Homo sapiens: one gene and its partner. The protein of the gene in region 2 purifies or fractionates together with the protein of the main gene of each other region. This does not show direct contact. Each region holds a gene or a part of one and is shown on either strand. Other genes may lie near its edges.

Region 1 (16,064 bases), on a different chromosome or scaffold from region 2:
GCTGATGGCCAGGCAGAAGGGGAGAGGATTTGTCATTCTGAGGAATAAGAATAATTTCTGTATAATTGGAGCCAGTGCAGATGGGATGGGGACCAAAATTATAAATATGAAGGGCATATAAATATAATATAATACATAAATATAATTATAAATATAAAGGACAGGGGCTTATGGAAGGAGGTTTAATTTCCTTTGAAGATGGAGCCTTAAGTCCCAGGTGCATTCTGATCTTGTTTAAGATCAGATGCACTCTGAATGATTCTCTTCCAATTATGGGCAACTTTCTCCTCCAGAAACCTTTTTATATCACCTGGGTAGCAAGGGGATCATCTAGTGACCGTTAGACTTCGCATAGATGAGCAGACACAAGCCTAGAGAGGGACATGTGATCACCAATAGTTTCTCAGCCAGTAATAGTTGTACAGCCTTGGAACAAGTCACTTTTTGAGCCAGCACTATCTGATAGAAATTAATGGGAACCACAAATGAGAGCCACATGTGTAATTTAAAACTTTCTACTAACCACATTTAAGAAGTAAAGAGAAACAGGTAAAATTCATTTTATAATATATGAATTTGACCCAGTATATCCAAAATATCATTTCAACCTGTAATCAATGTAAGTCTTAGAAATCTGGTGTGTATTTTATTTACACTTATGGCACATCTCACTTCGGAGTAGCCATATCTCAAGCGCTCGGTAGCCATATGTGGCTAGTGAGTAAAGTATTGGATGGTGCAGTTGGGAGCGTCAGTTTCCTTTTCTGTGAAATGAGGATAAATCACTGGAAGCTCGTGAGAGCGCACACGAAACACCCGGCACTCCGCCCTGGACACTAGGGACGCGCAATCAAGTTTGGTTTCTTCTGGTCCCTGCTCTCCCCTCCCGCCCCTCCTCTAAGTCTCCGCCCCCTTTCCCCGCCCCCTCAGGCTCCAGGCGGAAGCAACCCTGTTCCAAATGCAGCGCGCTTTACGGCGGCGCGTCCTTTTACCGCGGTGTGGCCGGCTCGCTTGTCGCTCGCACTTTTGCCCTATTGGCTCTGCGGCTCCGCTCGCCGCACTTTACGGCAGTGTGGCTGGAGCCGCGGCTGACGGGCCCGCGGTCTGGGCGTGAGTGCAGGGAAGTGGAGTATTTGCTGGGCCGGGTACCATGGACGTGGGCGAACTTCTGAGCTACCAGGTATGAGGGGCAGGGAGGGCCGAGCGACCGCGTTCTCACCTGGGCAGGGGTCGCAGGAGCCAGAGCCCTTTCATCTCACCTCCTCTCGCCTCACTCCCGGGCCCTCTAACTTCTCATGCCACCCGGGGTCTCAGCCCCTCGTTTTACTTTGCTCTCCGAAGCCCTCCTGGGCCCTTTCGATTCATCCCTTCTCAAGACCTGAGCCCTTCACCTCCTCTTCCTCACCCTGGGGCCTGGTTCCCTGAAACTCCTCTGAAACCCCAGACTATCCTTTTTTTCACAACCATGTCCTCTCAGCTCTCATGTCCCCCCAGTCATTGAGGTGATGGTGGTGGCGGCGGTGGGAGTGCACTGGTCTCACTTGGATTTGATCTCCAGCTTCTCCACTGACTGGCTATGTGGCTTTTGGACAAGTCATTCCCCCCCTCTTTGAACCAAGTTTTTGTATCTATATAGTGGAGACACTAATAACTGCCTTAGTAGGGTTGTTTGAGGACTGTACCAACTGATATGTATGAAAGCTGGTTTTAAAGTGTGGAAAGCTGTGCTTGTGTTTACTGCGATTTGCAGGAGATGTTGGGAATTCTAGCATGGAATGAGTTTCTAGGAATCTTGCTCAGGGTCCCCCTTGCCTAGGAAACTTGTGGGGAAACTGTATGGGACCTAGAGAGCAGAAAGGGCTTGTCCAAAGTCACTCAGAAACAAGGAGCTGGAATTTGAGCTCAGGCGTACTGACTTCCACCCCAAAGTTTTTCCCCCACTTTGATTCCATAGGAGGGTCATTGCGAGGAGCAGTAGAGCTGCACTGCCGAATGTCGTAGCCACTAGCCACATAGGCTGTTGATTGCTTGAAATGTGACTAGTCTGAATTGAGAAATACTGTAAGTATAAAGACACATTTGGGTTGGAGACTAGTATGGAAAAAGTGAAATTTTTATATTGATTACATGATCGTACTGATTATATCAATTACATTGGTTATTGGTCATATTGATTAAATGATCATATTTTGGATAATGGGTGAAATAAAATATACTTAATTAATTTTTAAAATTTTATTTTATTGTTATTTAGAGACAGGATCTTGCTCTGTCGCCCATGCTGGAGTGCAGTGGCACAATCATTGCTCACAGTAGCCTTAAACTCCTAGGTCTAAGGTATCCTCCCAAGTAGCTAGGACTGCAGGCAGGCATCACTATGCTTGGCTGATTTTTAAATTTTTTGTAGAGACAGGGTCTTGCTATGTTGCCCAAGATGGTCTCAAACTCCTAGCCTCAAGCAGTCTTCCCACTTGGCCTCCCAAAGTGCTGGGATTACAGGTATGAGCCACCACACACCACACTCAGCCAATAAAATATGTTTAAAACCAATTTTAACTGCCCCTCTTGACATTTTAATGTGTTTACTAGAAAATTTAAAACAACATATATAGTTCAGCTTATATTTTTGTTAGACAGCCCTGCAGTCAAGAATAGGTGATTAAGAGCCATGAGTCTGGACCCCTAGGTTGCTGGCAGTCTCTGTTTTGCTACTAACTGGCTGCTGTAACCTTGAACAAAATACTTAATTTCTCTCTGCCTTGGTTTCTTCATCTGTAAATGGGGGACAGTGACGGTAGCTGCCTCACAGGGCTGTTGTGAAGCTGTTGAGAAATGGAAAGTCCTTAGACAATGCTTGCCAAAGAGTAAACATTCAGTAAATATTAGCAGTTATTTTCATACCACTCCCTCAGCCAAAGTACAAGAAATTGACCCTGGACGCTTAAGACATCATGGGAAAGAACAGTTCAGCAATGGGGAGCTATATAGCCAAGAGATTTTTCTTTTAAAGACAGTTTAATTGATAGTGAAAGATGAAGGGAAATAGGCAAGTTATTAAATCAGTGATTGTATGCCGGCTTGGAATTTCTAGAATGGCTAGCCCATTAAAGCTAGAAGAGTTTCATTCATTTGCTCAACAAATATATATTGAACACCTACTGTGTGCAAGGCAGTCTATCCACTGGGTATACAACACTGAATAAAAGACAAGATTCTTGCTTTTGTGGAGCATCTGGTGGGAAGTTACAAGATAATAAGTAAACAATGCATTCAGTTTGTGGTAAGTGCTGGGAAGGGAATATAGCAGAGTATGCTATAAAATTGCACTGCTTTGTATAGTAGCCACTAGGCACATGTGATTATTGAATACTTAAAATGTGACTAGTTTCGAATTTAGATCTGCTACATGTGCAAAATACACACTGGATTTCAAAGATTTAGTATGAAAATAATGTACAATATCTTTTTTTTTTTTTTTTTTTTTTTTTGAGATGGAGTTTCACTCTTGTTGCCCAGGCTGGAGTGCAATGGTGAGATCTCAGCTGACTGCAACCTCTGCCTCTTGGGTTCAAGCGATTCTCCTGCCTCAGCCTCCTGAGTAGCTGGGATTACGGGCATGCGCCACCACGCCTGGCTAATTTTTGTATTTTTAGTAGAGATGGGGTTTCTCCATGTTGGTCAGGCTGGTCTTGACTCCCAACCTCAGGTGATCTGCCAGCCTTGGCCTCCCAAAGTGCTGTGATTACAGGCGTGAGCCACTGCCCCTGGCCACGTGAAAATAATGTACAGTACCTTAACTTTTATGCTGATTACATGTTGAATAAATGATAACACTTACGATATATTGGATTAAAGAAAATATATTATTAAAATTAATGTTGCTTTTTAAAAAACTTTTAAAATGTGGCTACTAGAAAATGTAAAGTGGGCCGGGTGTGGTAGCTCATGCCTGTAATCCCAGCACTTTGGAAGGCTGAGGCGGGTGGGTCACCTGAGGTTGGGAGTTTGAGACCAGCCTGACCAACATGAAGAAACCATGTCTCTACTAAAAATATAAAAAATTAGCCGGGCGTGGTGGTGCATGCCTGTAATCCCAGCTACTTGGGAGGCTGAGGCAGGAGAATTGCTTGAACCTGGGAGGTAGAGGTTGCAGTGAGCTGAGATCATCCCATTGCACTCCAGCCTGGGCAACAAGAGCGAAACTCTCTCTCAAAGAAAAAAAAAAAGAAAGAAAATGTAAAGTTAGGTGTTTTGTTTGTGGCTTTTGTTGTATTTTTATTGGACAACACTCCTGTCGAAAATAACCCCTGGGAGTTGGGGACAGGACCTTTTACTTTATGTAATGTGGTCGAGGAAGGACACAGAGGAATGGGCATTAAAGGACTGAAGGTTGAGAGGGACCCAGTCATGTGAAGGGAGCAGAATGATGGAGGCAGCAAGAACAGCAAGTATGGACATAGGCTATTGGTAGAAGCTGGTGCAGCCTCATAGGGGACCAGAAAGAGGATCTATGTAGCTGAAACGGGAAGTGAGCAGGGGAATGGTAAGTGACAAAGCTGAAGATGTAGGCATGTGACAAGACTATGTAGGCCTTCCTTGTGGGCCACGATAAAGACCTTGACTTTGAGAGATACGGTAGATACCTTCATTCAACCCACTTGTTCATGGATGAAAGTGAACCTTAGTCTGATAAAGGGACTCACCTGAGGTTGTGGGCCAAGATGGTGGCCAGAGTTGAAACTAGAATCCTGGTCTCCTTATTATTATTTTTTAATGTTTACACATCTTACCACATTTAATCTTAATGGCAGTACTTAATATGTTAATATAGGAACCTTCATTTTAAAGATGAGGGAATAGGTATAGAGAATAAAAAACGTGTCCAGATTCACACAAGTGAAATGTACCTCAAGGATTCCAATCTAGGTAGCTTTGCTTCGTGATCATAAACATTTGTTTATTGTGTTATTCCAAAAGTATTTCATTTTGTCAATCTGACCCCTTTCCCCCTCACCAAGAGCAAATATGCCTAGCGCCTACAGGTAGATTGGGGTTGCCACAGGCTAATTTTCCTGAACTGCAAAATATTACTTGCCTTCCTTATCCTGGATCTTGGCCTTTACATTTTCTATTGTATCTGAGGGTTCAATCTAAGAGTTTTAAAATGCAAATATGTTGGTTGCACAATAAGGAACTACAATACTAGAACTCATTTAATTCAGGTTGACAACACTGAACTGAACCAGTAACAGGGCTGAAACCTCCTAAGTCTGCTACTGGAGAGCACTTTGATCTCGCCAGCCTAGGGCGGGCATGCTCATGTCCAGCTGGCCAGCCAGGAGCATCTCCTTCCCCATCGCAGGTTCCCCACTTTGGTTAATTGGCCGGCTAGAACCATTCGAGAGGTGAGAGGCCCACCCGTTAGGCACCAAAAACCAGCTCTAGGCCTTTGCTCAGCGAAATATCCTCAATTCAAGGCTAAGTTTCAGAACCCAAATTCAGAATCATGGTCTAAGGCTTGGAAAGCAGCACCAGTCCCAAAATCCACCTCAGGACCTTATTCAGGCCCTGGCTTCCTTACACCACCTGGCCCTTATCTCAGAATCCTGGTCTCCTTATTTCCAACTCTGTACATTCCCCATGTGTTCTGTTCATTCAGTTTTCTTTTTGTAAGATCCATGTCCACTCTTCCTGTTCCTAAAAGATGGTAAAGGCTGGAATGTAGTTCATAATCAGTTGCACCCATCCTCTTGCAGAAAGTCATGAGTTTATGGATGCAAAAGTTCTTTGAGGCCAAGCGTGGTTGTTCACCCCTGTAATCCCAGCACTTTGGGAGGCCAAGGCAGGCGGATCTCTTGAGTCCAGGAGTTCCAGACCAGCCTGGGCAACATGGTGAAAACCTGTCTCTACAAAAAGTTTAAAAATCAGCTGGGCATGGTGGTGTGTGTCTGTGGTCCCAGCTACTTAGGAGGCTGAGGAGGGAGGATTACTTGAGCCTGGGAAGCAGAAGTTACACTGAGCCAAGATCATGCCACTGTGCTCTAGCCTGGGTGACAGAGCAAGACCCTGTCTCAAAAACAAAAAACAAACAAACAAAAAAACTCCTTGAAAACAGTAACATTTTATAGACATGAAAGATGCTTTACTAACCAGCATGATCTATCTAAATCCTCATAACAACCCTATGAGGAAGGTACTGTTGTTAATCCCTGTTGTACAGATAAGGAAACTGAGGTACAGAAAAGAGCACCTACCTTAAGGCATCTAGCTAGGTAGAGGCAAGTCCAGGGTACCCGGGTAGTCTTACTTCATAGTTGGAGCTCCTAACCACTGTGCCATACTGCCTGCCTGCTATATGCCAGATGCAGAACCAAAGTGTTTTCAGACAAGTTATCACATTTAATTCTCAACATGCCTTCTGAGGTTGGCAGCATGCCTGTATTATAGGAAAGGAAACTCAACCTAGGGAGGTCAAGCTGCCTGCCGAAAGCCAGACAACCAGTAAGGAGCAGGGCCAGAACTGAAACCAGCTGAACACTCAGAGGTAGTTTTCCATTTTGTTTTCAGATTTGAAAACTTTTTAAAGTTGAAGTATAGTCCACATGTTGAATAATACATACATCTTATGAGCCTTTGGTTATAGTTATCATTTACAAAGTAGACTCAGTACGACCACTGAAGTTTGCTTCTCAGGGACATAAGGGAACAAAATTGTCTGATTTGAACATCCCCATCCCTAGAGTTTGATTCAGTCTCCTGTGGGACTTTAGATTCTGCATTTCTAACCAGATCCCAGGTGATGCTGATGCTGTACTTTGTGATCCCCTGGTCTAAAATGATCTCCCTTCCTTGAAAAATTTTCCCCAGCTGAGACATTCTCTTCCTCTCTTGTGGGCATTGGTTTGCAGATTTTTGAGCTTAAGTTGTACTTTTTCCCTGCCATTCAAGATATTGAGAGCAAATCACTTAATCTTCCTGGGCCTCAGTTTCCTCATATGCCTAATGAGGGGATTAAGTACGCGACTCTCTCTGAGGCCCCTTCTAGCTTTAAAATTCTGTGGTACTAATTATTTAGACCGGGGCTCCAGAGATTTCAAGGGATAAAAACGCTTCATGTGGTAGACTGAGTGGGGCTGAGAATCTGGGAGATTTGGGTTTTAATCCCACTTTTATCATTACTTATCTGGGTGACTCAGGACAAGTCACTTTCCCTTTCTATACATCATTTTTTTTCAATCGCTTGTAAAATGAGGAGACTGAGCGATATGACTTCTGGTTCTTTTCATTTCCAAAATTCAGAGACTAAGATGGATGCCGTTTCTAAAATTCAGAGACTAAGCCAGGAAAAATATCATGCAGTGTCAAGAAATGTTTATTAAAAGTATTTAACATTTTTTGGGTGCTTACTACATTTCATTTTTGGGGCGACTTGGTGGGAAGATTCCAATTTTCTGCTGAGATTGGTTCTTCTACAAGTAATAGAGATAGGCACTAAGCGCCTCAGTATATGCCGTATATCCTTGACATATGTTAACTATTCATTTGAGAAGACAGGAGAATTACAATATGGGCAGGAGGTGGTGGAAAAAGTCTTCAAGAGGGAACCAGTTATGTTCCCAATATGGAAATGTACTTTTTTGATGCCTTCAGGCTTAGACATCTCATCAAGAAGTGTGCCCAGCAGTGCCTTGGCTGAGAAGTTTCTGCTGGCATAGGCGCATATATGAACTCCAGGGCACTCTCATTAAATCTGATTCCACAGATGTCTGGAAAAAGTTCTTACCTCTGAAGTTTTCCAATAAAGAATTCACATTTAGTATGGCTTGTGACATGAGATGTATTCTTTTTGAGGCAAATTTGAGGCTAAGGGACCCTTGGTTTTGGTGATATTGCAGACACCCACTCCTCTTGTCCTCTATCAGTAATATCTTAGCATATCTCTTGGATTGCAGGAGCTTACAGAAATATCTAAACTTGCTCCTTTCCCCCTCCTAGTTTTTTCTTTTGAAATAAAATTTTAAATGATAATAAAGTGATAGAAATAGTATTAAAGAAAATGCTTGAGAAGAGGAAAACTATTATCCTAATTCAATCAATATTTTTCTGTTCCCACAGTCCTTACGTATTTTGTGAGGCTAGAACCATTGCATATATACTACTTTATGTTCTATGTTTTTAATTTAACATTGCCAGGAATATTTTCTGTGTTTCTACATCTCCTTCATGTTATTTTTAATATTTGCATACTTTTTGCTTGAGTGATAGACCATTTTCCCTAAATTGTTCTTCTACAATTGGATGTTTAGGTGGTTTTCCGGTTTTTGTTCTTGGAGATAACATTGTAGTGAAGTGCTTTGTTCATGTAGCATTTTTTTCCTTCCCATCTGTCATTAGTATTTACCATGTGCCATCTCCTGTGCCAAGTATTGCATGCACTAAAATTATTATGACATGGACCATGGACATTAAAGAAGAATTCATAATGTAAGGAGCAAGACAGACATTTAGAAAACTAACTCTATGAATAAAAGTATTATGGGAGCACAATGGAAGGAACGGTTGGATATGGAAAGGGGATATATCGATGGGGATGGATTTGGTTTGGTCATTGAAGAAAAGGGAGATGACACTGGAATCCTAGCCTTGATGAATGGGTAGGGATTCTGTGGGTGGTAAAGGACACTGGGGACAGTGATTCTTGACTGGCATTATTAAGAGCAAAAGCAGGGTAGTGAAATGTTCAAAGCATAGGGTAAATGCAGCAATGGGTAAAAAGCAGGGAGTGGTCGGAGACGATGGGGGTCATCTCAGCTGCAGATGTGTGGCGTAATACATCGTACGCTCATCTCAGCTGCAGATGTGTGGCGTAATACATCGTACGCTCATCTCAGCTGCAGATGTGTGGCGTAATACATCGTACGCTCATCTCAGCTGCAGATGTGTGGCGTAATACATTGTACGCTCATCTCAGCTGCAGATGTGTGGCGTAATACATCGTACGCACGTGGAATGAATCATTGGTTGTTTTACAGTGCTAACAGTATACTGTTTGTGTGTGTTCCAATTTTATTACAACCTTTTTTTAAAAAATAGAATCAGGGCCTCCCTGTGTTGTCCAGGCTGGTCTTGAACTCTTGGACTTGAGCTATCCTCCTGCCTCAGTCTCCTAAAGTGCTGGGATTACAAGCGTGAGCCACTGTGGCTGGCCCCAGTTTTATTACAATCTTGATAGTACTAGTTCATAATTTATTTTTTCCACTAATCTACTAGGTATATTAAATACTAGTTCAAGGTTGCTTTATTAAGCATTATTTTCTTCTTGTGTGAGTTTATCATTTGTATTATTATGTGCCTCATAAGGTAGTCATTGTAATTTCGTAATTGAGTTTTTCTGTTATATGGGTTTTTTGGTTGTTGTTGTTGTGTGTATAAGAAACATTACTGAAAATCTGAAAACTGGTGCTCAGATACATCCTTCATTCTGTGAAGGCCTCATCCCAGTAGCCCTAAGAATATGATTCTAATCATGAAGTCATTTTATATAGGCTCTTTTTGCATGTCAGTTTAGTACATTTTGAAGTTACTTTTTGTTGGAAGTGTGACTCTAACAGATAAGGAGGACCAGAACAGATACAGAGCTATTCTCATTGATAACATTTCAGACTGTTTTTCTCTTTCATCTCATGAGTGATTTTTTTCCTTAAGTTCACTTCCTCCCTCTGCGTTCTTCTCATCATCTCTTTCTTCTGGCCCATTCTTCTCACACTTACAAAACACATTCTATTTATATGCCTCCTTACACACACTTTTTACTAAACTGTAGACTTAGAGGCAAGGACCAGCACCTAGCAGAGCATCTCAACTGTAGTTAATGTCTAATACATGGTTGTTTAATGATTGAATGAACTGGGACATGCCTTTGTATATGCCCTGGTTGTTTCCCCTTCTGGAAAGCTCTTGTTCTACTATCTTGTTAGCTTGTTGGCCTACATCTCTGTGCTTTCATGTCAGACTTCAAGAAAATTGGGTTCACAACTGATACTTCAGTTGCTTAATCATTTTCCTCTTCTTTATTATCATATCTTGCCACTCTTGCTACAAAACCTATATTCTTTGCTTTTTAACTTTTTATTTTGAATTTTAAACTTAGAAAAAATTATAAAAATAGTAGAGTTTCCGTATATTCCTCATCCAGCTTCCCCTAAAGCTAACATCTCATATAACCATTATGTAAAGATCAAAACTAGGGAATTAACATTCGTGTAATACTAGTAACTAAACTGCACACTTAATTCACATGCCATCAGAGATGTCTGGTCATTTTTCTGTTCCAGGTTTCTATCCAGGATCCCACATAATGTTTGTCATATTTCCTTAGTCTTCCGTTATCTTTCATGTTGAAGAGTACTGGTCAGCTATTTTGTAGAATGTCCAAAACCTACATTCTTGAACTTGTCAGTGCTGTCTTTTGCCAAAGATTTTCTTGGGCCTCATTATTCTGGAATCTTCACTAGAATTTGACTCTGTAACTCTCTTCTTCATCATTTTAGAAGAACTCATTCATTCTTTTCCTTTCAGCATCTTTTTGCAGACAGCTCTTAGTTCACCGTCCCTGATTAATGTTTCGTGTGTGTACTGAACATTCTGGCCAGATGTTCAGATATCACATAATTCTCTGCTTCCTCCCCTGCCTATCCCCATGGCCAGCTTTGCATTTCAGTCAGGGGTGTTGATGTTCAGCAGACTTGAAAGGAGCCTTGGAACTATTTCTCAAAGATGAAACGGCTCAAAGATGAAAGACAAGGTTCTTTACTTTTTTTTTTTTTTTTGAGACAGAGTTTTGCTCTTGTTGCCCAGTGCAATGGCATGATCTCGGCTCACTGCAACCTCTGCCTCCTGGGTTCAAGCGACTCTCCTGCCTCAGCCTCCTGAGTCGCCGGGATTACAGGCATGTGCCACCACGCCTGGCTAATTTTGTATTTTTAGTAGAAACGGGGTTTCTCCGTGTTGGTCAGGTTGGTCTCGAACTCCTGACCTCAGGTGATCCACCTGTCTCGACCTCCCAAAGTGCTGGGATTACAGGCATGAGCCACCGTGCCCGGCCATGGTTCTTTTCTTCATGGTTGGTACAGGCTCATGAGCACAGAGCCTGCCTCTCTCTCAGAGTAAAGAAGGTGTTAGGATATGAAAATGATTAACTCACAGTTTTTGCTCTCCTGGAGCTTGCAGTCTAATGGGGTATACCCCAGATTTGAAATCCAAGTATAGAGTGTCAGTGCTGTCAGGGCTGTTATGGTGCCATGAACAAGATGTGGTGGCACAAAGACACAAGCAGCTCTACTGCTGGGAAGTTGGAAAAGGCTTTATGGAGGGAGCGCTGCACCTTCAGGAGTCTTCTCTCCATCCCTTCCTTTCTGTTCCAACCGCCACCACCTTAGTTTAGACTCTTAAAACTTTGTTGACAGGGTGTAGTGCTTCACACCTGTAATCCCAGCACTTTGGGAGGCTGAGGTGGGAGGATCTCTTGAGCTCAGGAGTTTGAGACCAGCCTGGGCAACACAGTGAGACATCGTCTCAAAAAAAAAAAAATTTGCTGGGTTTGGAGGTGCGCGCTTATAATCCCAGCTACTGGGGATGCTGAAGTGGGAGGATTGCTTGAGACCAGGAGATTGATGTTGCAATGAGCGGTGATCACACCACTGCACTCCAGCCTGGATGACAGAGCTAGATCCTGTCTCAAAAAAAAAAAAGGGAAGACTGTCAAATAAGTAGCCTCCTGGGTGGTCTTACTTTTATCATTGTGGATCTCATATTGGCATGGTGAGATCCAACAGAGGCCAACAGAGAACACTGTTCTTCAGTCATAGACTTCAGTCCTACCTAGTTCAGCTTCCTTGGAGACAGGTCTTCTTACTAAGTTGCCTTGCTAATTTTGAAGGTGAATTTGGTGAAGACAGCCATGTCTTTCTGCAGTCTCTCAGTAGTTGTCATTGTTTAAATTGAGGGATTGAATTTATAAGGTTTAACCAATTAGAGAAGTTTTCGTATATAAAAATGACTTCATTGGAGAATGTGGATGGTTCACAATAGCTTGTCAGCACTGTGGGAGAAAATACTTCAAAGCCTGTTAGGCATCCCTTAATGTTTAGCTTAGTGCATGAACATGAACTCTGGGTCAGATGGCCTGCATTGGAATCTCAGCTCTGCTACTTGCTAGCTATGTGACCTTGGGTCCATTAATTAACCTCTTTAAGCCTCAGGTCTTCATCTTTAAAATAGAGATTGTATAATAGTGTCTATCTCTGCCCAACCATCTTTAAAAAAATTTCTGCTTTACCATCTTTCTTAAAAATAAAGGATTAAATGAGACAATTTGGATATTGCTAAGTAGTACAGTGCCTGACACATAGTGAGTGCCCAGTAAGTGTTACCCATTAATTTTCGTTATTTATCTCATTACTAACAACACGCATGCTACAGCAACATGGCAAAAAAAAATTTTTTTTTAATTCTACAAAATTGCCTCAGTATTCCCAAGGTCATTGGTCCCTTGGAGATTAAGGTTCAGAATCCTGTATAAAGAAATGAGAACAGTTTGTTACCCACACATGCTACAGTATAGAAATGTTCACAGTAGGTTAAAATACAACTTTATTATATCAAGAATTATGTCATCACCATAGTAATTATTTTCCCGTGGTCTCTTTAATATTACTAAGATATCTCAGTTTTCCTATTTTCTAGCGCCAAGAATCTCGTTTACAAATTACTCCTTCCTTTGTCTTTTTTTCCCCTTAGTGTCCCTAAAGGAAGTGGTTGGGTTTGGTCTGAGTCTTGTGTAGCTGTAGAGAAATTGGAATCAGGAGAAGATGTAGTAGGAATTCTGATACTGCTTTTACCTTCTCCAAGGTCAGCCATTTACCTCTTTAGTATTTCAGCTGAATATTGGCATCCCTTGGAGATATTAAGGGTTTGGTTCCAAACCACTCCAGTAAAGCAAGTCATACAAATCTTTTGGTTTCCCAGTGCATATTAAAGTTCTGTTTATACTATACTGCAGCCTAATAAGTGTGCAATAGTATTGTATCTGAACAATGCACATACTTTAATTAAAAATGCTTTGTTGTTAAAAGCTGCTAACCATCATCTGAGCCTTCAGCAAGTTATCTTTTTGCTGGTGGATGGAGGGTCTTGCCTCCTTTTGCTGGCTGCTGACTGATTAGGGTGGTGTTTGCTGAAGGTTGGGGTGGCTGTGGCAATTTCTTAAGACAACGATGAAGTCTGCTCCATCTGTTGGCTCTTCCTTTCATGAAAGATTTCTCTGTAGCAAGCTGTGCTGTTTCATAGCGTTTTACCCACAGTAGAACTTTTTTCAGAATTAGAGTCAGTTCTCTTAAACTGTGCTGCCAATTTATCATCTAAGTTCATGTAATATTCTAAATCCTTTGTTGTCATTTCAACAATGTCCACAGCATCTTCACTAGGAGTAGAGTTTATCTCTAGAAGCCACTTTCTTTGCTTATCCTTAGGAAACATTCCATTCAAGTCTGATCATGAGATTGCAGCAATTCAGTCACATCTTCAGGCTCTGCTTCGAATTCTAGTTATCTTACTGTTTCCACCACATCTGCAGTTAGTTCTTCCACTGAAATCTTGAACCCCTCAAAGACATCCACGAGGATTGGAATCAACTTCTTCTAAACTCCTGTTAATGTTAATATATTGTCCTCCTCCCATGAATTATGAATGTTCTTGATGGCATCTAGAATGATAAATCTTTTCCAGAAAGTTTTCAATTTATTTTGCCCAGATCCATCAGAAGAATCACTATCCATGGCAGCTATAGACTTATGAATGCATTTCTTAAATATTAAAGAATAATACTTGAAAGTTGAAATTACTCTTTGATCCATGGGCTGCAGAATGGATGCTGTGTGTGCAGGCATATAATTAACATTCATCTCCTTGTACATCTCCATCAGACCTCTTGGGTGACCAGATGCATTGGCAATGAACAGTAATATTTTGGAAGAAATTTTTTTTTTTCTGAGCAGTAGGTCTTAACAGTGGGCTTAAAATATTCAGTAAACAATGCTGTAAACAGATATGCTGTCATCCAGGCTTTGTTATTCCATTTCTAGAACACAGGCAGGGTAGATTTAGCATAATTCCCAAGGGCCCTAGGATTTCAAAATGCTAAATGAGCATTGGCTTCAATTTAAAAGTCATTAGTCCCTAAGAAGAGCATCAGCCTGTCCTTTGAAGCTTTGAGGCCAGGCATTGACTTCTCTCTAGCTGTGAAAATCCTAGATGGCCTCTTCTTCCAACAGAAGGCTGTTTTGTCAACATTGAAAATCTGTTGTTTAGTGTAGCCACCTTCATCAATGATCTTAGCTAATTCTTCTGACTAACTTGCTGCAGCTTCTACATCAGCACTTCTGGGTTCACCTTGCGCTTTCATGTTATGGAAGTGGCTTCTTTCCTTAAGCCTTATGAATAAGCCTCTGCTAGCTTCAAACTTTGTGTGCAGCTTCCTCACCTCTCTTAGCCTTCATAGAACTGAAGAGAGTTAGGGCCTTGCTCTGGATTAGGCTTGGCTCAAGAGAATGTTGTGACTGGTTTGATCTTCTGTCCAGAGCACTAAGACTTTCTCCATATAAGCAGTAAGGCTCTTTAGCTCTTTTACTATTCATATGTTTACTGGAGTAGCACTTTTAATATCCTTCAAGAGCTTTTCCTGTGCATTCACGCTTTTCTGTCTGGTATAACAGGCCTCGCTTTCGGCCCATTGCCGCTTTCAACATCCTTTCCTCACTAAAGCTTAATCATGTATAGCTTTTGATTTAAAGTGAGAGATGTGAGACTCTTTCTTTCACTTGAACACTTAGGGCCATTGTAGGGTTATTAATTACTTAATTGCAGTATTGTTGTGTCTCAGAGAATAGGGAGACCTGAGGAGAGAGAGAGAGAGAGAGAAAGAGGAAAGGCTGGTTGAGGCACTCAGAACACACACATTTATTCATTAAGTTCGCTGTCTCACGTGGGCGTGTTTGTAGTGCCTGAAAACAAAGTAGTAATATTAAAGATCACTCATCACGGATTACCATAGCAGATATGATAATAATGAAAAAGTTTGAAACATTGCAGTAATTGTCAAAATGTGACACAGACATGAAGTGAACACATGATTTTGGAAAAATGGCAGCGATAGACTTTCTTTTTTTTTTTTTTGGAGGTAGAGTCTGGCTCTATTGCCCAGGCTGGAGTACAGCAGCAGGATCATGGTTCCCTGCAGCCTTGACCTCATGGGCTCGAGCAATCCCAGATTAGCTGGGACTACAGGTGTGTGCCACCATGCCCAGCTAATTTTTGTATTTTTTGTAGAGATGGGGTTTTGGCATGTTGCCCAGTCTGGTCTGAAACTCTTGGGCTCAAGTGATCTGCCCACCTCAGCCTCCCAAAGTGTTGGGATTACAGGTGTGAGCCACCGCGCCCAGCTGATAGACTTTCTTGATGCGGGGTTTCTATAAATCTTCAATTTGTAAAAAGCACAGTATCTGCAAAGGGGGAAAAAAATGAGGTATGCTTGTAGTTCAGAACTAGTTTCTTTTCCATAGAATTCCAGCAGTGACTGATCTGAAAATGTTTTAGCCTAAACTTTAGAATTCCAGCTCCATTGTGGGTTGGTAAATGGAAATTAGCTTTTCTTCATCCTGGAGTTCAGTGAAGGATCTAGTGAGACTACTGCAGTGCCTTTCTATCTTTTAACTCACTTTGGATTATCAGCTGCTTGTAAGCAGATTATGTGCACTGGCTCTTTGTACTTCCTTTCAACAGCTACCCAGCAATATCTAGAGTCACTGAACTAAGAAGGAGTTGAAACTGGCCAGGCGCGGTGGCTCACACCTGTAATCCCAGCACTTTGGGACGCCGAGGTGGGCGAATTATGAGGTCAAGAGATCGAGACCATCCTGGCCAACATGGTGAAACCCTGTCTCTACTGAAAATACAAAAATTAGTTGGGCATGGTAGCATGCACCTGTAGTGCCAGCTACTCAGGAGGC
Region 2 (16,560 bases):
AGTGGCATGATCTCAGCTCACTGCAACTTCCGCCTCCTGGGTTCAAGTGATTCTCCTACCTCAGCCTCCCGAATAGCTGGGCTTACAGGCATGCACCACCATGCCCGGCTCATTTTTGTATTTTTAGTAGAGACAGGATTTTACCATGTTGGCCAGGCTGGTTTCAAACTCCTGATCTCAAATGATCTGCCTGCCTTGGCCTCCCAAAGTGCTGGGATTATAGGCGTGAGCCACCACGCCCAGCCGACAGCACTTTATTTTGATGAATTCTTTGGTGTCGGATAAGGTGTGTACTTTGTCTAAATCTTTCCCCACATTCAAGACATTTGTAAGGCTTTTCCCCAGTGTGAATTCTCTGGTGTTTAATGAGGGTTGCACTCTGATTGAAGCGTTTCCCACAGACGGAACATCCATAGGGCTTCTCCCCAGTGTGGATTCTGTGGTGTTTAAAGAGGTCAGAGCGCTGTTTGAAGCTCTTCTCGCATTCTTCACACTTATAGGGTCTTTCCCCTTTATGTAGTCTCTGATGTCTAAAAAGGTTGGAAATATGACAGGTTTCCCCGCATTCCTCACATTTAAAATGTTTGTCTCTACTGTGGGTACTTTGATGACGATTTAGGTGTGAATTCTGCCTGAAGCGCTCCCCACATTTCAGACAGGTGTACGGCTTCTCGCCTGTGTGTGTCCTCTGGTGCTTGGTCAGGGCAGCACTCTGGCTGAAGCTTTTCCCACATTCTTGGCAGCCATAGGGTTTCTCACCTGTGTGGATTCTCTGGTGTCTAAAGAGGTCAGAGCGTTGTTTGAAACTCTTCCCACAGTTACCACATTTATAAGGTCTTTCTTCATGGAGCTGCCTCTGGGTCTCAAAAAGGCTGGAATGATGGAAACTGTCTCCACTGTCAGACTTGTGAGGTTTCAGCACGTGCCACGTCACCATGTGGAAACTTTGCTTGCACTTGTTCCCGTGTTCCTCACTGTCAGTGGGCCTCTCTGCTTTCGGGATGTGCTGACATAGAACAAGGTTGGAACACCTGGCACTGTTCTGCAATTCATTATTTTTAGAGTCTTCCCCTTCTATGGAACCATTCTTATTGACATCTGAGATGCTGTTGAGTCCTTCTGCTTCAGGAGAATTTTCAAGTTTCAGGGGCAAGGGGTCTCCGGACTGCTTTTCCACCCTGTCCTCATGGGTACTGCCACACTTAGAAAACAGGGGGCGCTTCCCCTGGAACGCTTCTTGTAGTTGCCCCTGTGGCTCCGCTTCTTCTAAAATTTGTTGCATTGGAATCAACTCTTTGTTCTCCACTCTGCTTTCCAAACCTGAAACGTGAAAATACAAATTCCTGCCAGTGCATCCCTGTGCAACACAGAAATAAGCAAGTGCTGGCAGAATGTTAAACCCTCAAACCCCTTTTACTTTTTAATTAATTAATTTATTTTTTGAGACGGTGTCTTGCTTTGTCACCAGGCTGGAGTGCAGTGGTCCGATCTCAGTTCACTGCAACCTCTGCCTCCCGAGTTCAACTGATTATCCTACCTCAGCCTCCCAAGTAGCTGGCATTACAAGTGCACGCCACCACACCCAGCTAATTTTTGTATTTTTATTAGAGATGGGGTTTCACCATGTTGGCCAGGATGGTCTCTATCTCTTGACCTCATGATCCGCTCGCCTCAGCCTCCCTATTTATTTATTTTGAGACAGAGTATTACTCTGTTGCTATTTATTTATTTTGAGATGGAGTCTCACTCTGTTGCCCAGGCTGGAGTGCAGTGGCATGATCTCGGCTCACTGCAACCTCTGCCACCTGGGTTCAAGTGATTCTCCTGCCTCAGCCTCCCAAGTAGCAGGGATTACAGGTGCTAATTTTGCTAGTTTTAGTAGAGACAGTGTTTCACCATATTGGCCAGGCTGGTCTTGAACTCCTGACCTCGTGATCCGCCTGCCTCGGCCTCCCAGACTTCTGGGATTACAGGCGTGAGCCACAGCACCCAGCCTATATTTTATTTTATCGTATCTTATTTTATTTTTGAGATGGAGTCTTGCTCTGTTGCCTAGGCTGGAGTGCAGTGGCATGATCTCAGCTCACTGCAACCTCTGCCTCCCAGGTTCAAGTGATTCTCCTGCCTCAGCCTCCCAAGTAGCTGGGATTACAGGCACCCACCACCACACCCGGCTAATTTTTTTGTATTTTTAGTGGGGACGAGGTTTCACCATCTTGGCCAGGATGGTCTCGAACTCCTCTGACCTTGTTATCCACCCCCCTCGGCCTTGCAAAGTGTTGCGATTACAGGCGTGAGCCACCACACCCAGCTATTTTATTTTTTTGAGATGGAGTTTCGCTCTTGTTGCCAAGGCTGGAGTGCAGTGGAGTGATCTCAGCTCACTGCAACCTCTGCCCCCCAGGTTCAAGCAATTCCCCTGCCTCAGCCTTGAGAGTAGCTGGGATTACAGGCAACGTGCCACCACACCCGGCTAATTTTTGTATTTTTAGTAGAGATGGGGTTTCACCATGTTGGTCAGGCTGGTCTCAAACTCCTGACCTCAGGTGATCCACCTGCCTTGGCCTCCCAAAGTGTTGGGATTACTGGCATGAGCCACTGCACCCAGCCTATTTATTTTATCTTTTTGAGACAGAGTCTCACTCTGTCACCCAGGTTGGAGTGCAATGGCGTGATCTCGGCTCACTGCAACCTCCACCTCCCAGGTTCAAGTGATTCTCCTGCCTCAGCCTTCTGAGTAGCTGTAATTACAGGTGCCCATTAACTGGCCTGGCTAATTTTTGTATTTTTAGTAGGTATTTTAGTAGGTATTATAGTAGGTATTTTAGTAGGTATTATAGTAGGTATTTTAGTAGGTATTATAGTAGGTATTTTAGTAGGTGTTTTAGTAGACGGGGTTTTACCATGTTGGCCAGGCTGGTCTCGAACTCCTGACCTCAAGTGATTCACCTGCCTCGGCCTCCCAAAGTGCTAGGGTTATAGGTGTGAGCTACCTCGGTCTCCCAAAGTGCTGGGATTACAGGTATGAGCCACCACACCCGGCACAAGGGAGCAATTTGAGCAAAGCCCTGAAACTTTGCTTCCTACAGAGTAGAGTAGAATATTCCAGGCAGAGCGGTCACATAGCACAAAGACCAGGAGGCAGCGGGGCCTGGCATATTTTGGAGCAGCAAGGCAGTGTGGCCAGAGCAGGCAAAGGGCAGCAGAAGGGATGGGTGGGTGAGCAGGGTGCCAGGGCCCCTGCACATCAGGCATCAGAGGTCCGGCTAATTTTTGGTATTTCTAGTAGAGACGGTGTTTCACTATGTTGGCCAAGCTGGTCTTGAACTCCTGACCTCATGATCTGCCCACCTCGGCCTCCCAAAGTGCTGAGATTTACAGGCCTGAGCTATCACGCCCGGCCAAAATGTATTACTATTTTTTTTATTAATTTTTTTTTTTAAAGAGATGGGGTCTCGCTATGTTGCCCAGGCTGGTCTTGAGCTCCTGACCTCAAACAATCCTCCCATCTGGGCCTCCCAAAGTGCTAGGATTACAGGTGTGAGCCACCGTACCCAGCCAACAGCAAATGTTGACAAGAATATGGAGAAAGAAAAATTATTAGTATTGCTGGTGGCATATACATTAGTTATGGGCTCTTTGGAGAGCAAGATGAACATACAGTTGTTCCCTCTTCTCTGTGGGGACACGTTCCAAGTCCCCCAGTGATGCCTGAAATTGTGTATAGTACCAAAGCCTATATATATATGTGTATATATATGTATATACATACATACGTGTGTGTGTGTGTGTGTGTGTGTGTGTGTGTGTGTATATATATATATATATATGTATATATATATATAAAATGTTTTTTCTTTTTTTTTTGAGACGGAGTCTTGCTCTGTCACCCAGGCTGGAGTGCTGGAGTGCAGTGGCACGATCTCGGCTCACTGCAACCTCCGCCTCCCAGGTTCAGGTTCACGCCATTCTCCCGCCTCAGCCTCCCGAGTAGCTGGGACTACAGGCGCCTGCCACCACGCCTGGCTAATTCTTTTTTCTGTATTTTTTAGTAGAGACAGGGTTTCACCGTGTTAGCCAGGATAGTCTCAATCTCCTGACCTCATGATCTGCCCGCCTCGGCCTCCCAAAGTGCTGGGATTACAGGCGTGAGCCACCGTGCCTGGCCTATAATGTTTTTCCTTATATGTACATCCCTTTAATCAAGTTTAATTAATAAATTAGGGACATTAAGAGATTAACAGTAACTATTAATTATAACAATATACTTAGCTAGGTTTGGTGTCTCACACCTGTAATCCCAGCACTTTGGGAGGCTGAGGCAGGAGGATCACCTGAGGTAAGGAGTTCAAGACCAGTCTGGCCAACATGGTGAAACCCCATCTCTACTAAAAACACAAAATTAGCTGAGCATGGTGGGGCATAACTGTAATTCCAGCTCCTCGGGAGACAGAGGCAGGAGAATTGCTTGGCTTGGGAGGCAGAAGTTGCAGTGAGCTGAGACCACACCACTGCACTCCCCCTGGGCAACAAGAGTAAAACTCCATCTCAAAAAAACCCCCAAAGCCAAAGATAAAAAACGAAAAACAAATGCTATACTTAATAAAAGTCATGTGAATGTGGTCTCTCCCTGTCTTAAAATATCTGATTGTACTGTGGGTAAGTGAAACCGCAGAAAGCAAAACCAGGAAGGGGGGACTACTGCCTGTCTCTAGGCATATTCTCTTCAAAAACTCCAACATAGAAACAAATATACAAAGATATGCAAGAATATACAAGAATGTTCGGTGCAATGCTGTAATGGTTAAAAACTTAAGACACCTAAATGTCCATCAACAGAAATGGAGAGAATTCTGGAGTATCTGGACCGTGAAATAGGTAGAGCTCCATGCATCAACATGAGTAAATCTCAAAAATGTAATGTTGAGTAAAAAAAGCCATACAGTAATGATATACAGCGTGGAGCTACGTGTCTATGTAGAGACAATATAAGACATGCATGGAAGTCATGAACACAACAGTCAGCTTACTGGCTACCTCTGGAGAAGGATAGAGGGGAAGGGTTTCAGGGAGGCTATGTGGGGGCCTCACCTACAGCTGTAACATACTATTTCCTTGGCAATATGGCCAAGTATTAAGATCTGATAAACTTGGGTGGTAGACACAGGGGATGGTCATTATCTTTTTTTTATATAGTTTTCTGTATGTATAAAACATTAAAAATGAACCAAAGTAAAAAGCTGAATCTAGCACCTAGCAGTACAGAGGCTCCTGCTTGCGTTACAGAAGGCACCTGAAGGCTCTCAGCCCAAGTCTGGGAATGGCATAGTGGCTCAGGGATGGTAGTGAACCAGCCCTTCACAAACCACACACCGCAATAAACCAGCAGAGCAACAGCACTCACTCGGCGGAACTGTGCTCCCGGAATCCTTCTGCGCACTCTCTCTGCAGAAGTCCCTCCGTGCTGGGTCCAGGCGCTCCCACTCCTCCCAGGTTAGAGACACAGCCGTGTCCTCGAAAGTCACCATCCCCTGGAACAACACAAGAGCCCCATTCAGTACCTGCTGTCCCTGTACAGCACTAACACTCTTCTTGAGTCTTGTACCGACAAGGGAGTTTGGAGAGATCAGAGATAGAGGCTGACATTCTCTTGTAATCCTGAAAAGCCTTTCTGTGGACTATTTACACTAATTTTGGAGGTAGGTAGGAGCAAAATATTTCTTTAACTTATATCACTGTGATGTATGGGAATGGAAATATGATACAGATTAAAAGTAAACAAGGCCGGGCGCGGTGGCTCACGCCTGTAATCCCAGCATTTTGGGAGGCCGAGGCGGGCGGATCACCTGAGGTCAGGAGTTCGAGACCAGCCTGGCCAACACAGTGAAACCCCGTCTCTACTAAAAATACAAAAATTAGCCGGGCGTGGTGGCGGGCGCCTGTAATCCCAGCTACTCGGGAGACTGAGGCAGGAGAATCGCTTGAACCCGGGAGTCAGAGGTTGCAGCGAGCCGAGATCGCGCCATTGCACTCCAGCCTGGGCAACAAGAGTGAAACTCCATCTCAAACAACAGCAAGAACAACAAGAAAAAAAAAAAAAAGAAAAGAAAAAGAAAGAAAACCAGTAATCCGTGTTCGCTTTATGCTGAGGTCTATAACAAGTCATTTCCTGGATGGATCTGTCACTGTGGCCTACAGAAAGGAAGTCCATACACACCCCAATGTTCACACGAAATGTAATAAGGAAGTAAGTTCCGAAACGCAGAGCACCCCTAAACGCCTATTTTCCACACTCCCACCTCCAGAACAGGCCTTTCGCTTCTCACCTGGGATGAGGTTCCATCGAGCGCTCGCTGCAGAGCCCGCACCACGGCCACCGCCTCCTCCCCGCTCTCTGGGCAGTGCTCTCGCACCCAGGCTTGAAGCTCCTCGGGCAGGATGGTGAGGAACTGCTCCAGCACCAGCAGCTCCAGGATCTGCTCCTTGGAGAGCAGCTCGGGTCTCAGCCACCGACGACAGAGTTCTCGGAGCCGGCTCAGCGCCTCTTCCGGTCCAGCCACCTCCTGGTAACGCAGCTGCCTAAAGTGCAGTCGAGAAGTTTCGGGGTCCGGCGAAGCCGCGGGATAGTTGGGCTCCCAACTTCCGGGTGAGTCTTCCTCCACTTTCACGGGCAAAAGTCCGTCGCGTTGGGACGGCGCCGCGTCCTTGGACCTCGCAGCCATCACCCAGGGTCCCAACTCGGCGTCACTGCCGCGCCTCTGGGCGGTCAAGCTGGAATTCATCTTTCTCCGGCATGTGCTGCCCTTCCTGGAGTCTTCTTTTCAGGTGAAGAAAGAGCAAACCCAAGGAACTCATCAGCCGTCAACACCCTCCGGTCCCAAACACCGGGCCCCACCACACCAGGCCCCTCTCCACACTCTCCTTTCCTCAGCTTTGCGCCTACAACTCTCTCGGTCAAACAACCGAAAACATCCCGTGCCGGAAGCGCGTCATCGAGGCCTTGCGGCACCTTTCCCTGCATTTCCGGGGCCTCTCTAGGCGCCTGATGGGGTGAGGTGCATCTCGCTGGTTTATCGTCCTAGCCCCGCCCGACGCAGAGGGTCTTGACGGTTTCCCGCATCCCGAGGAAATACGGGCGTCCGAGCCGGTGGCCGAGCTCCGGCAAGGGCGGGAACCTTCAGGATTAAATAGACAGGGTCTGGCTCTGTCGCCCAGGCTGGACTGCAGTGGCGCGATTTCGGCTCACTGCAACTTCTGTCTCCCGGGTTCAAGCAATTCTCCAGCTTCAGCCTCCCAAGTATCTAGGACTACAGGTGCGCGCGACCACGCCCGGTTTATTAATTTTTCTGTGGGGATGGGGTTTCATTATATTGCCCAGGTTGGACAAAGTTGTTTTTTTTTCTTTTTTCAGGCGGACTCTCGCTCTGTCGCCAGGCTGTCTTAGCCTCCTGAGTAGCTTGGACTACAGGCGCGCGCCACCATGCCCGGCTACTTTCTGTATTTTAGTAGAGATGGGGTTTCACCATGTTGGTCAGGCTGGTCTGGAACTCCTGACCTCGTGATCCGCCTGCCCCGGCCTCCCAAAGTGCTGGATTACAGGCGTGAGCCGCTGCGCCCAGTTGGAAAAAGTTTTGTTTTTTTTTTAAAACTAAGTGCTTCCATGTACATCAGATGTTAACGACTTTGATCCTAACAAACAAACAAAAAAGATGAGGAAATTGAGGCTCAAAGATGTGTCCTGGCCTGGCTCAGTGGCGTATGCCTGTAATCCCAGCATTTTGGGAGGCTGAGGGGGGAAGATCGCTTGAAGCCAAGAATTGGAGACCCCAATGTCTACAAAAAATAAAAAATTAGCTGGGTGTGGTGGTGCACACCTGTAGTCCCAGTGAGAGGTGAAGCTAGTTGGACTTCCTGGGTCCAGTGGGGACTTGGACAACTTTTCTGTCTTACAAGAGGTTTGTAAAAATGCACCAATCAGCGCTCTGTAGCTAGCAAGAGGTTTGTAAAATGCACCAATCAGCGCTCTGTAAAATGGACCAATCAGCAGGATTCTAAAAGCAGCCAATCGCAGGGAGGATGGAAAAAAGGGCGTTCTGATACGACAGAAACGGACATGGGAGGGGACAAATAAGAGACTAAAAGCTCCCACCCCAGTCAGCGGAGGCAACCGGCTGGAGTGCTCTGCCATGCTGTGGAAGGTTTGTTCTTTCGCTCTTCACAATAAATCTTGCTGCTACTCACTCTTTGGGTCCGTGCCATCTTTAAGAGCTGTAACACAGTGAAGGTCGGAGGCTGCATTCTTGAAGTCAGCGAGAGGATGAACCCACTGGAAGGAACCAACTCAGGATACACCACTTACTTGGGAGGCTGAGGTGGGAGGATCCTTTGAGCCCAGGAGGTAAAGACTGCAGTGAGATATGATCGCACCAGTGCACTCCAGCCTGGGTGACAGAGCAAGACTCTGTCTCTAAAACAAAGTGTCTTGGTTGATGTCAAGCTGCTGGTGATTTGCAACTTGCATAAAATGAGACGATCGCTTGAGACCAGGAGTTCCAGGCCAGCCTGAGCAACATAGAGAGGATGTGTCTCCATATAAAAATAAAAAAATTTTTTTTTGAGAGGGAGTATCGCTCGGGTTCAAGCGATTCTCCTATCTCAGCCTCCCAAGTAGCTGGGATTACAGGCGCGTGCCACCACACCCAGCTAATTTTTTGTATTTTTAGTAGAGACGGGGTTTCACCATGTTAGCCAGGATGGTCTTGATTTCCTGACCTCGGCTCACTGCAACCTCTGCCTCCTGGGTTCAAGCAATCCCCCTCCCCACCCCACGCCCAAACAAACCGAACACTATTTATCAATCCAGGTGTGTTTAATAACTAGACATAAAAATATCTCTTATGGAGCCAGGTGCGGTGGCTCACGCCTGTAATCCCAGCACTTTGGGAGGCCGAGGCGAGGGGATCACCTGAGGTCGGGAGTTCAAGACCAGCCTGACCAACATGGAGAAACTTCGTCTCTACTAAAAAATACAAAATTAGCCGGGCATGGTGGCGCATGCCTGTAATCGCAGCTACTCGGGAGGCTGAGGCAGGAGAATCACTTGAACCCAGGAGGCAGAGGTTCACTAAGCCAAGATCGTGCCATTCACTCCAGCCTAGGCAACCAGCAAAACCATCTCAAAAAAAAAAAAAAAAAAAAAAAAAAAGGAAACTAGTCATCTTGGCTATCTCTAGAGAGAAAAATGAATGTAGAATGAGAATGAGAGGAAGACCTTAAGTGCCTTATTGAATTTTGACTCATGCAAATGTGTTATCTATTTAAGAAATAAATTATTGAAATGCAAAAGGTGTTTATAAATAATTCAAACCGGTTGCGGTGGCTCACGCCTGTAATCCCAGCACTTTGGGAGGCCGAAGCAGGCAGATCACGAGGTCAGGAGATGGAGACCATCCTGGGTAACACGGTGAAACCCCATCTCTACTAAAAATACAAAAAGTTATCCAGGTGTGGTGGCACACACCTGTAATCCCAGCTACTCAGGAGGCTGAGGCAGGAGAATCGCTTGAACCCGGGAGGCGGAGGTTGCAGTGAGCCGAGATCATGCCACGGCACTCCAGCCTGGGCGACAGAGTGAGATTCCGTCTCAAAAAAATAAATAGATAAACAAACAAATAAATAAATCATTTAAATGGAGGTAAATATATTAGAAAAGAATGGGTATCCACCAAACATTTTTTTTTTTGAGACGGGGTGTCTCTGTCACTGAGGTGCTGAAGTGCAATGGCACAATCATAACTCACTGCAGCCTCAACCTCTTGAATTCAAGTGATCCTCCAGTCTCAGCCTGCTGAGTAGCTGAGACTATAGGCATGTGCCACCATGCCTAGCTAATTTTATTTTATTTTTTGTAGAGACGGGGTAAAAAGGCCAGGCTGGTCTTCAACTCCTGGATTCTAGTGATCCTCTCACCTCGGCCTCCCAAAATGTTGGGATTACAGGCGTGAGCCACCATGCCCATCTGGAACAACTTTCATAGACATTAAACAACTTTATACGAGCAACAAAATTAAGCCATAGGTGCAAAATTCTATACCAACTCACTAACACACAAAATACGGGCATTGCAAACATTCACCGGGGGTTTGGTCCTAGATAGGAAGCTACTTAAAATGCAAGATTTTGGGCTCCCTGAAAAGAGACCTTTAACTTCTAAATATCTTCTCATCTTTTTGCAGATGCTGCAATTTCACAGCAGTTCCTTCCTTCGCGCCTGTAAAACAGTGGCAACAGTAACTCTTCTCCTGCCTGCCCATCAACTTTGTAAACTGCGCGGGGCGTAGGGGGAGGGGAGGGCTGGGGCCTGGAAACTATAAAGCACCATATGAAAAGGAGAGCACTGGGAGGTCGATGCGGGCGCATCACCTGAGGTCAGGAGTTCGAGACCAGCCTGGCCAACATGGGGAAACCCCGTCTCTACTAAAAATACAAAATAAGCCGGGCGTGGTGAGTGTGCCTGTAATCCCAGCTACTCGAAAGGCTGAGGCAGGAGAATTGCCCGAACCTGGGAGCAGAGGTTACAGTGAGCCGAGATCGTGCCATTGCACTCCAGCCTGGGGGACAACGAGACTCCGTCTCAAAAAACAAAACAAAACAAAACAAAAACGGGAGATTATTACTAAGAGATGGGGTCTCACTATGTTGCCCAGGCTGGAGTGCAATGGTGCGATCCCGGCTCACTGCATCCTCAGCCTCCCGGGTCCAAGTGATTCTCCTGCCTCAGCCTCCCAAGTGGCTGAGATTACAGGCTCGCGCCACCACGCCCAGCTAAGTTTTTGTATTTTTAGTAGAGACGGGGTTTCACCATGTTGGCCAGGCTGGTCTCGAACTCCTGGCCTCAGGTGATCCACCCACCTCGGCCTCCCAAAGTGCTGGCATTACAGGTGTGAGTCACCGAGCCCGGCCAAGGGAGGGTATTTCTAATAGACAGGGGTCTCGCTATGTTGCCCGAGCTGGTCTCGAACTCTTGGGCTCAAGCGATCCTGCTTCTTCAGCCTGTCCACTAGCTAGGCTTACAAGCGTGGGACCCCGCGCCTGGCTGAAGAGAGGTATCATTAAGGACGAGACCCCCTTGGCCAGGGAAGCCCTGCGTAAGCAACGCCCCTCTCTTCAAAGGGATGCCCCGCTCCCTCCGCCCACTCCCAGCCTTCCAGCCTTGGCTCCCGAGGACACGACTCCGGGCCCTGCCACCTTCTGATAGGCTCGCGAGACCGAGGCTGCAAAGAGAGCCGCCCCCCATTGGCCAACCGGCGAGTCCCGCGCGCCACCTCCTGGGAGATGTAGTTCCGGGAACAGCTGGCCCCTGCGACTCGCGGGTGTGACGTTGAAGATGTCGGCCTTCTGAGCCGACTGCGGTGGTCAAGAGGTGGGTTTGTTTGGAAAGTGGGTGGTGAGAGTAGCGAGGATGCGGGTGAAGAAAACCTAAGGGCCCCAAATTCAACATAAGCGAGGTTTGCGGGCTGTCAGCAAGGTACAGACCTACTTCAAATCGGGGCGCAGAGCGTTGGGGGTGGGGGAAGGCGCAAGCTCCCCGGCCAATCAGACACGAGCAACCTCAGCCCAACTCTGGAGGCCCCGCCCCCTTCCCCGCCCCACGGAAAGGGGAGGAGCTTGGGCTGTTTGAATGGCTTTGGGATGGAGCAGGGGAGAGAGTGGCTCCGTTTGCCTCCCCGCTTTGGTGATGCTGTGCGAGCGGCTTCGGGGGCCCTGGAGACGTCCGAGTCACTGAGGGTGGGCTGGGACTCGGGGCCCGCGTCCCATCTCCCCGCCGATTGGTCCGCCCCCCGTGCGAGGTGAGGTCCTCCGGGATTCCTAGAGAGGACGCGGAAGTGCTTTCGGGGGGGGGTGGGATCTAACGGTTTAACCCCGTTGGACAGGGCAAGATTGGACTTGGTTACTTCCGGCGAGGAAGTGTTGGGGAGTGTCGGCTTCGGTTTCTCTCCGTGGGAAGAACCGCATCTTCCCAGCCTCGGCTGCGGGGAGCTTGATGTTCCAGGAGAGCTCCCCTAGAGTGGGGCCTTGAGGGGAGGGGGCAGGGGCTTCGTGACTGGACGGGGGTCCTGTCCCTAACCTTGACCGGGCCACAGTCTCTGTATCTCGGGGTCAGGGGCCATTCTGAGGAATCCAGGTCCAGATCTGTACCTTATAAACGCTGCTTCTCTTTGGGACCGATGGAGTCTCCCCTTGGCCTGTCAAGCTCTTGTAGCTTAGAGAACAGGCTCAGTTTTGACCATTATAATGATTTTCACCCTTATTCCGACTTAAGTTCGTCTTATGGTAGAGAGAAAGAGCGGCTGCGTCTGGACTAGTTAGTCTCGTCCCGTTATTTATATGGAATGTAAAGTTCTTCACTCTAAAACTGTGTTTTAGGTTGGGCCTGATGTCAGATTTGTATGGCTCTCTTTTACACTTTTAAAATGTTGGGGTTATTCCTTATTATCATTTTGTGGGTGAAGTGATGGCTACCTTGTAGTACCTATTTTTAAGTAAATTACTTTGTTGAGTGGTCGTCTTTAGTATAGATGACCTCTTTGCCATCTGTCTTTGCTAATAATGATGCCCAATACATCAGTAGGTTGCATGCTACTGAAAGTGTCCTTCAGAAGATATTAAAGAGCAGAAAAACAATTGTTTCAGTGTAACACAGCCAGCCTCGAAGACTTCCCTCTGAGTTGGAATGATAATGACCGAATCCCGAGAAGTTATAGACTTAGACCCCCCAGCTGAGACTTCCCAGGAGCAGGAAGACCTTTTCATAGTGAAGGTGGAAGAAGAAGACTGCACCTGGATGCAGGAGTACAACCCGCCAACGTTTGAGACTTTTTACCAGCGCTTCAGGCACTTCCAGTACCATGAGGCTTCAGGACCCCGGGAGGCTCTCAGCCAACTCCGGGTGCTCTGCTGTGAGTGGCTGAGGCCCGAGCTGCACACGAAGGAGCAGATCCTGGAGCTGCTGGTGCTGGAGCAGTTCCTGACCATCCTGCCTGAAGAGTTCCAGCCCTGGGTGAGGGAACATCACCCTGAAAGTGGAGAAGAGGCGGTGGCCGTGATAGAAAATATACAGCGAGAACTTGAGGAACGCAGACAGCAGGTGAGTCAAAGAGAAGCTATATGAGCAATGAAGGAGAGGAGTGAACCATCTGCTGAGCAGGGGTGAGATTCTTAGTCCTCTGCTGCTTCATTCATATTCTTTTGTTCTCCTGGGATTAGGTACCCTGTGACTTCCTGCCACTCCAGCAAAGAGAAGCAATATCCAGTGTGTTAACCTGTAGAAGACAATCTGCGATCTTATTTATTTTTTAAATTACTGTATTTATTTAATTATTTATTTTTGAGACGGAGTCTCGCTCTGTCGCCTATGCTGGAGTGCAGTGGTGCGATCTCGGCTCACTGCAAGCTCCGCCTCCCGGGTTCACGCCATTCTCCTGCCTCAGCCTCCGGAGTAGCTGGGACTGCAGGCGTCCGCCACCAGGCCCGGCTAATTTTTTTTTTTTTTTTTTTTGTATTTTTAGTAGAGACGGGGTTTCACCGTGTTAGCCAGGATGGTCTCGATCTCCTGACCTCGTGATCCTCCCACCTCGGCTTCCCAAAGTGCTGGGATTACAGGCGTGAGCCACCATGCCCGGCCACTGTATTTATTTTTTGAGTGACATGATACAAAATTCAAAGAGGTACATAAGGTTGTAATGAAAAGTAAGTTTTCCTCCCATCCCCAATTTCTCTCAACTGCCTAGTTCTCACCTGTGTATTCTTACAGAGCTGTACCATATTCTGTATGTATAAGCATATATACGTCTCATACTTTGGAAAAACGCAAATGTCTTTTAAGTCACTGTGCACTTCTGCCTCTTTTTTCTTATATCTTGGTTTCTTCCACGCCACTGCCATTGCAGCTATCTCACTCTCTGAAATTGCATTGTATTAACTTTTATGGAAGGAGTTTGAGTTGTTCCATTTAAATTGTTCCTTGAGATTGTTTCTAAATTTGTATTATAACAAACTTTGCTGCAATGACTATCTCACATATATGTCTGTATATATGTGTGTATGTAATATACATAATGTATGTGTTTGCGTATATATGTATATATATGCGTATATATGTGTATATATGTGTATATATGTATATATGTGTATATATATGTGTGTATATATGTATATGTGTATATATATATGTATATATATGTATATATATGTGTATATATATGTGTATATTTATGTGTGTGTGTATATATATATGTATATATATAGGCTGGGCGCAGTGGCTCACACCTGTAATCCCAGCATTTTGGGCACCTGAGGTGGGAGGATCACTTAAGACCAGGAGTTCCACATCAGCCTGGGTAGCATAGCGAGACCCCATCTCTACCAGAAAAACCAAACAAAAAATTAGCTGGGTGTGGTGGCATGCACTTATACTTCCAGCTACTCAAGAGGCTGAGGCAGCAGGATCCCTTGAACCTGGTAGTTTGAGGCTGCAGTGAGCTGTGATTTTGCCACTGTATTCCAGCCTGTGTGACAGAGGCATACCCTATTTCAAAAAAAAGTAAAAAGTTAAAAAAATTTAAATTGAAAAAATATATGTATATAAAATTAACTGTAGAAGGAATGCTTGAAACTCAAAATTGTTGGCTTAGAAATACATGTGTAGGCCGGGCACGGTAGCTCATGCCTGTAATCCCAGCACTTGGGGAGGCCGAGGTGGGCAGTTCATGAGGTCAGAAGATCGAGACCATCCTGGCCAACATGGTGAAACCCCATCTCTACTAAAAAATACAAAAATTAGCCGGGCGTGGTGGCACGCACCTGTAATCCCAGGCACTCGGGAGGCTGAGGCAGGAGAATCGCTTGAACCTGGGAGTCGGAGGTTGCAGTGAGCCGAGATTGTGCCACTGCACTCCAGCCTGGCAACAGAGCGAGACTCCATCTCAAAAAAAAAAGTACATTTGTAATTTTGATAGCTGTTGACAGGTTGGTTCCCTCATAGAGGGTATAACAATTTAGAGTACCACCAACAATGTATGAGAGAAATTTTGTGGCCATAGCCTGGTAGAACAATGTTATCAAAATTGGTCATGATTGCCAGTACATAAGATGCAATATTGGCCGGGCATGGTGACTCACGCCTGTAATCCCAGCACTTTGGGAGGCTGAGGCGGGTGGATCATGGGGTCAGATCAAGACCATCCGGGCCAACATGGTGAAACCCCGTCTCTACTAAAAATACAAAAATTAGCTGGGTGTGGTGGCATGCACCTGTAGTCTCAGCTACTTGGGAGGCTGAGGCAGTAGAATCGCTTGAACTTGGGAGGCAGAGGTTGCAGTGAGCCGAGATTGCGCCACTGCACTCCAGCCTGGGCGATGGAGCGAGACTCCCATCTCAAAAAAAAAAAAAAAGATACAATATTTTATTTCTGTGAAATTTTTCTTTCTTTCTTTCTTTCTTTCTTTTTTTTTTTTTTTGGAGACAAGGTCTTACTCTGTCACCCAGACTGTAGTGCAATGGTGCAATTTTGGCTTACCCTCCACCTCCCAGGCTCAAGCAATTCTCTTGCTTCAGCCTCCCAAGTGGCTGGGATTACAGGCATGTGCCACTACCGCCTGGCTAATTTTTTTAGTTTTTTTATTTTTATTTTTTTGAGGTGGAGTCTCACTCTGTCACCCAGGCTGGAGTGCAGTGGTGCGATCTTGTCTCACTGCAACCTCAGCTTCCTGGGTTCAAGTGATTCTCCTGCCTCAGCCTCCCGAGTAGCTGGGATTACAGACATGCACCACCATGCCCAGCTAATTTTTGTATTTTTAGTAGAGACAGGGTTTCGCCATGTTGGCCAGGCTGGTCTTAAACTCCTGACCTCAGGTGATACTCCTGGCTCTGCCTTCCAAAGTGGTGGGATTACAGGCGTAAGCCACATGCCCGGCTTAATTTTTGTATTTTTAGTAGAGATGGTGTTTCACCATGTTGGCCAGGATGTTCTCAAACTCCTGACCTCAGGTGATCCACCTGCCTTGGCCTCCCAAAGTGCTGGGATTGCAGGTGTGAGCCACCACGCCTGACCATATCTGTGAAATTTCAATTAAATTTCTTTTGTTTGACCACAGCACTTTTTTTTTTTTTTTGAGACAGAGTCTCACTCTGTTGCCTAGGCTGGAGTGCAGTGGCGTGATCTCTGCTCACTGCAAGCTCCACCTCCCGGGTTCATGCCATTCTCCTGCCTCAGCCTCCCAAGTAGCTGGGACTACAGGCACACGCCACCATGCCCGGCTAATTTCCTGTATTTCTAGTAGAGTCGGGGTTTCACCGTGTTAGCCAGGATGGTCTCGATATCCTGACTTCGTGATCTGCCCACCTCGGCCTCCCAAAGTGCTGGGATTACAGGTGTAAGCCACTGTGCCCGGCCACAGCATATATTTTTAAAGATTATTTGTATACCCTTTTATGGTGGTGAATTGTCTGTTTATATTCCTTATCTATATTTTTTTACCTTTTGGAAACAATAAGCATTG

The links.
Region 1: the proteins of ZNF394 (region 2) and CTNNBL1 purify together in Homo sapiens (affinity purification with mass spectrometry; 2 studies listed by BioGRID and IntAct, with this or other methods). This does not show direct contact.

The regions. Positions count from the first base shown.
Region 1 is NC_000020.11:37,692,973-37,709,036, forward strand, and holds the start of CTNNBL1 (beta-catenin-like protein 1), read left to right. Parts: upstream 1-1,057; 5' UTR 1,058-1,150; coding exon 1,151-1,180; intron 1,181-1,954; exon of another isoform or gene 1,955-2,061; intron 2,062-16,064. UniProt on the Homo sapiens protein: Component of the PRP19-CDC5L complex that forms an integral part of the spliceosome and is required for activating pre-mRNA splicing.
Region 2 is NC_000007.14:99,493,312-99,509,871, forward strand, and holds the start of ZNF394 (zinc finger protein 394), read right to left. Parts: upstream 6,971-16,560; 5' UTR 6,783-6,970; coding exon 6,327-6,782; intron 5,532-6,326; coding exon 5,405-5,531; intron 1,321-5,404; coding exon 218-1,320; 3' UTR 1-217. Other genes in the region: ZKSCAN5 (zinc finger protein with KRAB and SCAN domains 5), read left to right, coding at 12,734-13,147. UniProt on the Homo sapiens protein: May be involved in transcriptional regulation.